3 linked regions of the Homo sapiens genome follow. The protein of the gene in region 3 interacts with the protein of the main gene of each other region in a biochemical or structural test. Each region holds a gene or a part of one and is shown on either strand. Other genes may lie near its edges.

Evidence for each region.
Region 1: of the proteins of ATP6AP2 (region 3) and AGT, one has a biochemical effect on the other in vitro, tested with the Homo sapiens proteins (one study listed by BioGRID).
Region 2: the proteins of ATP6AP2 (region 3) and REN form a complex in vitro, tested with the Homo sapiens proteins (one study listed by BioGRID).

The regions. Positions count from the first base shown.
Region 1 is NC_000001.11:230,703,973-230,707,622, forward strand, and holds part of AGT (angiotensinogen precursor), read right to left. Parts: intron 2,229-3,650; coding exon 1,961-2,228; intron 366-1,960; coding exon 221-365; intron 1-220. UniProt on the Homo sapiens protein: Essential component of the renin-angiotensin system (RAS), a potent regulator of blood pressure, body fluid and electrolyte homeostasis.
Region 2 is NC_000001.11:204,156,303-204,159,952, reverse strand, and holds part of REN (renin preproprotein), read left to right. Parts: intron 1-357; coding exon 358-554; intron 555-2,583; coding exon 2,584-2,592; intron 2,593-3,156; coding exon 3,157-3,276; intron 3,277-3,633; coding exon 3,634-3,650. UniProt on the Homo sapiens protein: Renin is a highly specific endopeptidase, whose only known function is to generate angiotensin I from angiotensinogen in the plasma, initiating a cascade of reactions that produce an elevation of blood pressure and increased sodium retention by the kidney.
Region 3 is NC_000023.11:40,601,354-40,605,003, reverse strand, and holds part of ATP6AP2 (renin receptor precursor), read right to left. Parts: intron 1-3,650. UniProt on the Homo sapiens protein: Multifunctional protein which functions as a renin, prorenin cellular receptor and is involved in the assembly of the lysosomal proton-transporting V-type ATPase (V-ATPase) and the acidification of the endo-lysosomal system.

The sequences.
Region 1 (3,650 bases), on a different chromosome or scaffold from region 3:
GCAGGAGGAGGCACAGCAGGGATGGGGAGGGATTTGCTGCTCTGCACCTGGAAGGCCCCAGAATGCTCTGGCTACTTCTCTCCCACCTTTGGCCCTACTCTCCGCTCCCTCTTGCCCTGCTGGCCCCACCCATAGCCTCCTCTGTGTCCCTTACATCCATGCCTCCCACCCTGTGCACACTTGGAACCCAGGTCAGGCACAGACACAGGCTCACACATACCTCCCCCACCCTGATGCGGTCATTGCTCAATTTTTGCAGGTTCAGCTCGGTGTGCAGAATGGCGGGCAGCTCAGCCTGGGCGAGCAGGTCCTGCAGGTCATAAGATCCTTGCAGCACCAGTTGGGGCATGGTCAGGTGGATGGTCCTGGGGAGATGATGCACAGTTAGGAAGGCTCCAGGCCACACAGTGAGGGCTCTCCCAGAGGCCAGGCAGGCTTATGCTCCTTGCACCCAACCCTGACGACAGGGATGTTTGCTCCCCCCATCACCCAACTAAGTCATCCTCCCCCTTGGGGAAAATTTCAGCAAAACCTACAATAAAAATCCTTCATGTCATTTGCAATACTATGTGAGGGACATAGAAGATTTACCGATGAGGACCTAGGAATGGTTGTCCTTTGGTGCATTCTGTTTTTAGGTTGGCTGCATTGAAGGTGTGTTACTTGGGTAATTTTTAAATGCTATTCTCTGAAATAATGCACTGTGTCTTACTACTGCCACAGCAGTGTTCTTGATGACATGACACCCATGAAAAGGAGAGAGGCAGGAGGGTACAGTGTCAACCTCGTGCTGGACACGTTGCTATGTCAACTCGATTGATCTTCGTATAGAGCCTCTTCCATCTTTTGGCATCCTTCAGAGCCCATGGACATTTCCAGTGATGTATCAAGCACTTATAAGAGCTGACAGTACACCCATGTTTACAGGGTACACTGCACTATTCACAGCAGCTCAAAGGTGGAAGCAACCCACGTGTCCATCGATGGATGAGTGGATACACAAAAGGTGGTAACCACATGCAATGGAATATTATTCAGCCTTCAAAAGGAAGGACATTCTGACATGTGCTACAACATGGGTGAACCTCGAGGACATCGTGGTGGTTGCCGGGGCCAAGGGGAAGGGGAAATGGAGAGTTAGTGTTTCAGCAGGACAGAGCTTCAGTTTGGGAAGTTGAGAAGATAAATGGAGATGGACGGGGGTGATGGCTGCACAACAGTGTGAATGGGCCTAGTACCACTGAACTGTGCACTCGAAAATGGTTACGATGGCAAATTTTGTTACGTATATTTTACCATCACAATTTTTAAAACATAAAAAACACCCAGAGTTGATGTCAAGCCATCGTGTCACTCAATGCCTGCCTCTGGGAGCAGATTTCCAGGCCTCGATGATCTGGGGTGATGTGTAGTTTGAGTCCAGGGCTCTGTGGAAAGGAATTGCAGCAGGAAAGAGGAGCTAACAACACCTATCCCCACCCAGCCGCCAGCCGCCAGCAAGGGCGTTCTGGAGTCAAGGGACGCTCCCTGAGAAGGCCCCACCCCCGCTCACGCGAAGTCCGAACCCTCCTGGCAAGTCAGTTCCAAGAAGCTCTTGGATGTCACAGGTGTGCTGTGTGTCAGGTGTGGGACCAAAATGGTCCTCTCTCAGAGGGCGGATTGCAATGTTTTCTCCCCCTCCAAAACTACCAGGCAAGTGTAAGTGTAGAAAAAGCATTCTTCCTCTCCTCCTTTACCTTGCCTGCACTTGAAAGACAGACACTAACTGGAGAGCTGGGTGCTGGCTGGATAGAGGACTGGTAGACAGACACACAGGCCGCCTGCCCAGCCCCGTGCCACCGCGGCCCTGCCCTGCTCTGCACCCAAGGCTCAGCTCAGGTGTGTCTACTCCCCACCCCGCCCCCAGCCTGGGCAGGACAGTGTGGCTCCCACATTCCAGGGGAGACCGGGAGGCTCCTACCGGGGAGATAGTTTCTTCATCCAGTTGAGGGAGTTTTGCTGGAAAGTGAGACCCTCCACCTTGTCCAGGTCAGAGGCATAGTGAGGCTGGATCAGCAGCAGGCAGGCGCTCTCAGTGAAGGGCACTTGAGTCACCGAGAAGTTGTCCTGGATGTCACTCCAGTGCTGGAAGGTGCCCATGCCAGAGAGCATGGGAACAGACACTGAGGTGCTGTTGTCCACCCAGAACTCCTGGGGCTCGGCCAGCAGGGAGAAGCCCTTCATCTTCCCTGAAATCCAGACAGGAGACAGGGAGGGAAGAGTCACCCAAGACAGGGGCAGGAATGAGGGCTGGCAGACACCAAAGGCCCAGATCCTGCCCCTCGCCCTGCCTCAGCCTCCTTCCTTGGCCCCCCCCAGGCCACTCTGCATTCTCCTGGCCACAGGACCGCAAGTGTGGCTCAAATATTTCTCCTGTAAAATGCAGCCATTTGAGTTCACTGAGGCAGCCCTAACCGCCACCTGCAAGACACACAACATGCCAGGCACCAAACCGGGGGTTTTGCATCTGTCACCTTAAGGGACATAAGCCACTGGTACCTGCCAGGTCAACTCAAACCTAGAACTGTCCTGACCCAAAGGCTGTGGTTTGACACACTCACTTTTTAAAAAATTTAAGAGATGTTATTTTTTAGAGTGACTTTAGGTTCACAGCAAAATCGAGCAGAAAGTACAGAAAGTTCCCATATAACTCTTGTCCCCCACTACACAGCCTCCCCCGTGATCAACATCTCACACCAGCGTGGCCCATTTGTTGCAACTGACGAACCTACACTGACACGTCCTCAGCACTCAAAGTTGATAGTTTTCTTTGAGTCTCCCTCCTGGTGTTTTACATTCTGTAGGTTTGGACGCACGTAGAATGACATGTGGCCACCACCGCACTATCCCACCACTCCTAGAGGCCCCTGCTCATACTCACTTTTTAATCCATGTCTAGCCCCAGCCATGGCAGAGCCCACCAGCTGTCCTGTGGCCCCCACCCTCCCCCATCACAGTCATAGAATACAGAGTGGGCCACGCAGGCCCCGGAAACGAGGGCTCCATTCCTCAGCAGCCCTTGCTACTGGGGAGACTCACACAACCTCGTTGTGATGAATGGATTTGCACACTGGGCCTTGGGGGCAGGGGTGAGCCCTCTGTTTCCCCTCCTGCTCACAGGGCCGTGCAGATGACAGAGAACTCGGGAGAGCCCGTTGTGGGAGAAGGACACAAATTTGTGTGTGACGCAGTTACCTGGGGTCTTTCCATGACAGCAGCCCACCCTCTGCCTCGACCTTACACTAGCACATCCCTGCCCTCGGCTGTCCTCCCACTCATCCTGAAAGGCCTATTCTGCGGTTGTTCTTAGGAGAATAGGGTGAAGTTGTGTATAAGTTTGTCACAGAACAGTCCCCTGGGCACGTGGCACTTGGGAGTCTGAGTAGAGATGGTTCAGAAACAGTGAGGTCTCCCTTTGTACTGAATTGGAGGTCCCAGCATGAAAGTAGGGCAGCTGGGAGGACAGAACTGGCAGGCAGGAGCTGGGCATGGCTGTGCCTCCCCTGGGTCCGGGTCTCGTAAGAAGGCAGTGGCAGACCTGGCATATTTCTCGTCCTCAGTCCTCGGAGCACTCAGTCTCGGAAGGGCATGTGAGCGGGAAACTGCAGGGT
Region 2 (3,650 bases), on a different chromosome or scaffold from region 3:
AAAGAAACCCTTCGCCCATGATAAGGGTGGGGGCCAAGACCCAGTCCTGCCAGGCACGAAAGTCTGGCCACTGGGGAGGGGAGGAGCTCTTGGCAGCTTTTCTTTTGCTGCTTGGCAGGACCACCCTCTCAGCCTCTGCTCTCCGATCCCTGGTCAACTCTAGCTCTCTCTGGGCTCCGCAGCAGAGATGTGTATTGGCACAGAGTGTGTGCGTGCAGGGTTGAGGAAATACTCTTACCCCGATTTCTGTACCCTGGAGCATGTGTGCCCCTGGGATCCCTAGTGTGGAAGCCCAGACCAGACTCCAACCAAGGAGTGGGCAGTGGGCTTGGTCTCCTCTGGTCCTTCCTCCCACAGGTGGGTGGAATCACGGTGACACAGATGTTTGGAGAGGTCACGGAGATGCCCGCCTTACCCTTCATGCTGGCCGAGTTTGATGGGGTTGTGGGCATGGGCTTCATTGAACAGGCCATTGGCAGGGTCACCCCTATCTTCGACAACATCATCTCCCAAGGGGTGCTAAAAGAGGACGTCTTCTCTTTCTACTACAACAGGTGGGGACTGGGACTCCAAGGGCTGAGGTGGGGGGACAGGAGGGGAGAAGAGATGGGGAGTGGAAGGAGAGTCTGGGCCAGAATTGTAAAGTGTTTGTAATTAGGTGACAGCCAATCAATATCTAGAGCTGTACTAGCCAATATGGAAGGCACTATTGAAATTTAAATTAATTAAATACAGTTAAGCATCAATTAAGCATTCAACTGGTGGCTCTTAGTTGTACTAGCCACACGTCAAATGCCTGGCAGCCACGGTGGCTAGTAACTACAGTCTTATGACAGTGCAGATAGAGAATATTCCCAGCATGACAGGACATTCTAATAGACAGCGCCACTCTGGAGCAAGAGGAGATGCAAGGTGGGGGCGATGGTAAATAAGGGATTACTGTGACCTGTAGCCCTGCCTGTTAGGGCCATGGCTCCTCCCACACAGAGACAGCCAACTTCAGTCATCCATTAGATCCTTCATTCGTTTGTTTGCTCACTCATCAGTTCAGTAAATGCTATGTGCCAAGCACTGTGGTAGGCTCTGGGGGTGCAGCAGTGAACACAGTGAACAAGGCAGAATCTGTACTCCCCTACCCACATAGAGCTTACAGGCTAACAGGGAAGACAAGACATATTCCAACATAAAGAGTGTCACAGGCAGGCAGCAAGTGTGGTGCTGAAAACCATGGATGCTTTTCAATTCTAGGCTGAGCTTATATGCAGCTCAGCCAGCCTTGGGGAAGCTCTTGAGCAGGGTTGGGCTCTACTCCAAACTGCTGGGCTTAGAAAGATGGCATGAGTTGGAGACAAGAGAGCTGGAGGCAAAAGGGGCTGGGTGCAGTGGCTCATGCCTGTAATCCCAGCACTTTGGGAGGCCAAGGCGAGAGGATCGCATGAGCCCAGGAGTTAAGGCTTCAGTGAGCAGTGATTGTGCCACTGCACTCCAGCTAAGGCAACAGAGTGAGATCCAGTCTCAAAAAAAAAAAAAAAAAAAAAAAAGTCACAAGGGTAAGAACATGAGGCCAGTGGCAAAAAGAATAGAGGAGAGGATCAGAGTTCAGAGAAATCTCACAGTAAAATGGAGAGGAGTCTCCGGTTTGGTGATAGAAAGTGAGGCCTTGAGAAAAGGCCAATTGGCGGCTCTGCATTCAGGGGTGGTCTTTAGAAGAACTGTTTTAGAGGAAGTGGGGGCAAGGCCAGATGGCAAGAAGTTAAGAGGTGGACGACGTGGGTGTCAGGAAGTGGAGGTCATGAGATGTAGGCTGCCCTGGGACATTCAACAGGGAAGGGAATGGGGGGTGGCGTGGGGGGTGAGATCCAGAAGCAGAAGAGGAAGGGTGGGTGTTTTTAAATGCTAGAGGATGCTCGAGTGATGCCTGTAGGTGGAGGAAGAAGCCAATGGAAAGAAAGAGATTAAAAATGTGGAAAGAAGAGGAGCTAAATGGGGGCACTGGAGTTTGGAGGCCTTGAAAGAGATGAGGTTCCAGCAGACAGGAAGAAGCCAGGTTTTGCAGAGGAGAGGGCTGGCCTCTTCTTTTATCTTGGGATGGGAAGGAGGGAACATCCAGAGAGATACTGAAGTGTTGAGAGACAGGCAGGAGGGAATTTGTGCTAGCATATACACATACATTCCGAATTTATAAAAACACAAGTAGTTTGCAGTTGCACAAAATAACATATGCACACCTACACACCCATGCACACATGTGCATGTGTGAATTCTAGTATGAATTCTGGAAAAACACATCACACACACAGGCATGCCCTGGAGACTAGGCCTACAGTAGTCCCTGAGCCAAGTGCAGTGAGGAGGAAAGGAAGGTGAGGGGAATCAGCTCCAGACGGGGCACCAGGAGCCTGGCTCCAGTCCCCCACTTGTTCACTCATGGACTGGGTAACTTCAGGCAAGTGACTTCGCCTCTTGGTGACTCCATTGCCTGAAGGGCAAAGAGAGTACATAACACCCACCCTGCCAAACAGCAGGGCTGATGAGGCTGGCATGAAATGAAGCTTCCTTTCTGCTGTCTCTCTTTCTCTGCAGAGATTCCGAGTAAGGAGACAAAACCCCCACATGGCTGTGACCTTCCAGTACTCCCCGAGCACCTGACCTAGAATTACACACGCCACCGGCCCAAAACTCACATCAGCAAGCCCAGCCTCCGCTAGATGCCGAAGTTCTCTGTCTCTCCTTCCTGCTCTCTCCATGCCACCTGCCCACCCCATACCCAATAGCCTCCCCAGGGTCCCCTCCCATGCACCTGCTCAATCAGCAGCAACCCAAGAGTGAGGGGTGTCCATTTGTGTCTTGTTCACATCCACTCACTGTCCTTGTACCTGCTCCTTTTCTGTGACCTCTCTGGGGATGCTTTTTGGGGGAACAGCTGGACTACCCTGGAACAACCTCTGGTTGGTCTTGGGGAGGGGAAGAAAGGCAGAGAAGCAGTATGTTCTGCATGCTTCCCAACGACAGCTCCGAGCCTGGCTGTCTGTCCCACATTCCTCTGCTCTAGAGCCCTCTGTCCTCCCCTGCACCCTTGTGCAACCTTCCCCAATTGCCTGAGTTGCTGGGTCCTGGAGGTTATGGGTTTCCAAGAGCTTCTGATCTTTCCTTTAGGAATTCCCAATCGCTGGGAGGACAGATTGTGCTGGGAGGCAGCGACCCCCAGCATTACGAAGGGAATTTCCACTATATCAACCTCATCAAGACTGGTGTCTGGCAGATTCAAATGAAGGGGTCAGAAATCCTCAACCCTCCCCGGGCTCCAAAAAATGCTGCCGTCACTGGGGTTGGGGAGGGTGGGGAAGGACTGCATTACCATCCTGCCCTCTTTCCAAATGCAGCCACTTCTTAAGCACAGCCACCATTTGCTCTCTGCCTGCTCTGTCCAGGCTGGGGAACAGAGAAGGGAGGGGCCTGGGGAGAAGTGGTGGAGGGTGACAGTACCTTCCCTCCTCTACTCACTGCCTCAACAGGCCACCAGCGTGGCCTCCACCCACCCACCCACACTCAGGAAGGACATGCAGCCTGGAGGTGCCCCATCAGCCTTCTGTCTGTCTGTCTGTCTGTCTGTCTGACTGTGGCCTCCCCCAGGGTGTCTGTGGGGTCAT
Region 3 (3,650 bases):
CAAGACTGTGCCATTGCACTCCAGCCTGAGCAACAAGAGCAAAACTCCGTCTCAAAAAAAAAAAAAAAAAAATCATCAACAGAATGGAATTGTGGTATATCCCTACAAGCAGAATATGTAACAGTAAAATGACTAAACTACAGCTACATTTGTCAGCCTGAGTGAATCTTAAAAAGAATACTGAACAAAGAACACAGAAAAATACATGTAGTATGATTCAATTTATATAAAATTCAAATACAGGCAAAACCAAACAACACTGTTTAAGAACAAATACATATGCAGTCAATCTGTAAAGAAAAGCAAGGGATTAACATGATATCCAGGACAGCAGTTACCTCTGGATGAGGGAGGGTAGAGGGAGAAAATAGGGAGCTTCAAAGAAGCAAGCATTCTCTTAAGCTATTGATATGGTTTGGCTCTGTGTCCCCACCCAAATCTCATCTCGATTTGTAATCCCCACGTGTCGAGAGAGGGACCTGGTGGGAGGTGATTGGATCATGGGGGCAGTTTCCCCCATACTGTTCTCATGATACTGAGTTCTCATGAGCTCTGATGGTTTAAAAGTGTGCCACTTTCTCTCTCTTTTGCCACCTTGTGAAGAAGGTGCCTGCCTCCCCTTCCCCTTCCTCCATGATTGTAAGTTTCCTAAGGCCTCCCCAGCCATGTGGAACTGTGAATCAATCAAACCTGTTTCCTTTATAAATTACCCAGTGTCAGGTAGCTCTTTATAGCCATATGAAAACGGAGCTATACAGTGTTATTATTTTTATTATTTAAATAACTAGTATTAAATATGTTATATACTTATGTATGTATGATCCACTTAACACTTTTTTTTAAAATACAGAGCTGTGTAAAAACATTGTTTGGGAAACTGAATTCATTCTGACAAAGGCACTGTTTGGGAAATATCATTCATTCTGGCTAGAGAATTTTAAAAGTAGGAACACAGCAGGAGATGAAGCTAGAAGCAGGGAAGCTACAGAAAATCTGACATGAGCCTCTGGGCAATAAGGAGCCATTGACAAGCTTTAGGCAGAAAGTGAGTGACATGATCAGGTTTGTCTTAAAAAGATAACATTAAAATTAAAAATTAGCTGAGTGTGGTGGCTCAAGCCTATAGAACTGGCTACTCAGGAGGCTCAGACAGGTGGATCACCTGAGCCCAGGAGTTTGAGGCTACAGTGAGCTATGATTGCGCCACTGCACTCCGGCCTGGGACAGGGCGAGACCCTGTCTCAAAAAAAGAAAAGAAAAAAGATAACTTTGATGACAATGTGTAGGATGGATTTGGGAGGAGCCAGCTGGGAAGCAGAGAGACAGATGAGTTCAGACAAGTTAGGAGGCGGCAGTCAAATGAGGTGGGAGAAATGGGGGCAGGGTGCCTGGCAGTGAGGATGAGAACGAAAATGTAACCGAGATCTATTTGTCCCTACAGCCCCAGCACCTGGAATGTTGTGAGTACTCAGTAAATGTTCCTTAAACTCCTGTCTCCTTAAACTAATGGAAGAGAGTGATTTCAAATGTAGGAGAGAATGGGTACACAGGCATGCATATTTACCTGCGGGGAGCTCAGAGCTGAGGCAAACGTTAAAGGATTTCACGCCCATGAAGACCTCTTTGTTTCTTTCCTTTTTTTTTTTTTGATAAACATGTTCTTTTTCCTACCCATTTTAAGTGTACAAGTCAAGGAATTTTAGTGGTTTCATAGTTATCACCACAATCTAATTCTAGAACATTTCTATCACCCTAAAAAGAAATCTCATAGGCCGGGCATGGTAGCTTACACCTGTAATCCCAGCACTTTGGGAGGCTGAGGTGAGCAAATCACTTGAGGCCAGGAGTTCAAGACCAGCCTGGCCAACATGGTAAAACCCCATCTCTACTAAAAGTACAAAAATTAGCCGGGTGTGGTGGTGCATGCCTGTGATTCCAGCTACTCAGGAGGCTGAGGCAGGAGAATCACTTGAATCTGGGAGGTGGAGGCTGCAGTGAGTTGAGATTGTGCCACTGCACTCCAGTCTGGGTGACAGAGTAAGATCCTATCTCCAAAAAATCCAAAAAAAAAAAAAAAAAAAAAAAAAAAAGAATTCTCTGGGAGGCATCCCCACTCTCAACACATGTGCTGACCACCCAGAGCCCAGGTGCCTTTCTGTTTCCCTGTGCTGGTGGGCAAAAATTTCCAGTCTACCCTCTCACTGAGGGCACAGCTCTCTCGGGGTCCCCAGCTTTATCTGGAGTTGTCCATTCCCATCCCCCACACACAAGGCACCAAAGGACTCTTGGTGACCCAGCTGGCAAATATCCTTAGGGCGGCCTGCTTACCACATTCGGTTTTTTTTTTTTTTTTTGAGATGGAGTCTCACTGTGTCACCCAGGCTGGAGTACAGTGGCACAATCTCAGCTCACTGCAACCTCCGCCTCCCGGGTTCAAGCGATTTGTCTGCCTCAGACTCCTAAGTAGCTGGGACTACAGGCGTGCGCCACCACGCCCGGCTGATTTTTTGTGTTTTTAGTAGAGACGGAGTTTCACCATGTTGGCCAGGCTGGTCTCGAACTCCTAACCTTGTGATCCACCCACCTCGGCCTCCCAAAGTGCTGGGATTACAGGTGTGAGCCACCGCACCCGGCCTCCTCTTCTTTATTTACTCTGTAAGAGAATTTCCCTTTCTTGCGAGCTGAACTATGTATTTTTATTTTTGTAATTTTTTTTTTATTTGAGACGGAGTCTTGCTGTGTCTCCCAGGCTAGAGTGCAGTGGTGCAATCTTGGCTCACTGCAACCTCTGCCTCCCGGGTACAAGCAATTCTCCTGCCTCAGCCTTCCAAGTAGCTGGGATTACAGGTGCCCGCTACCACACCAGGCTAATTTTTGTATTTTTAGTAGAGACGGGGTTTCACCATGTTGCCCAGGCTGGTCTAGAACTCCTGGCCTCAGGTGTTCCGCCCGCCTCAACCTCCCAAAGTGCTGGGATTACAGGCGTGAGCCACCACACCCAGCCCAAACTATGTACTTTTTAAAAGATCTTTATTTTTATCTAGCATTTCTAGACGTTTTATGGTGGGAAATCTTGGGTGGTTGTCTAGACTGACATGCTGTCTGAAACAAAGGTCCTTCCATCCCCAATTTAATTTAGAAAGAAACAATCTCAAACCAGTAATCGCTAGACTATCTCAAACAGGCACTGGCTTCGACCTTCCGACTCCAAGTCCCACACTGACTTCAGTAAAACTGAGCAGGGTGAGGGCTGCAAATGGGTCTGAAGCGGAGGTGTATGTAATTGAGTGGATATCTATCTGCTGCAAGTGATACAGCCAGCCCTAAGCAATGTTCTCAGACGTAGGATGTTAGGGAGCATCTACACTACTCTTTCCCATCACCCTCCCTAGGTTCTGCTGCAGCTGTAAGTATATATGTATGTATGTAAATGTGCACGTACATACACATAAACAGATATGTATTTTACCATGGCCAGCAACCATGGTAATGCTTAACCCTGACCCTCTAAATGCTTAAAATCAAAGCAAGATCCATACCCAAAAAAACTGTTAAGTAAATCAAAATCATAAAGAGGTGCACACAGAGGATCTCAGTAAGTGAGGGACTACGCCACAAAGACAATGTGCCTGCTAGAAAAGCAGAGCCCA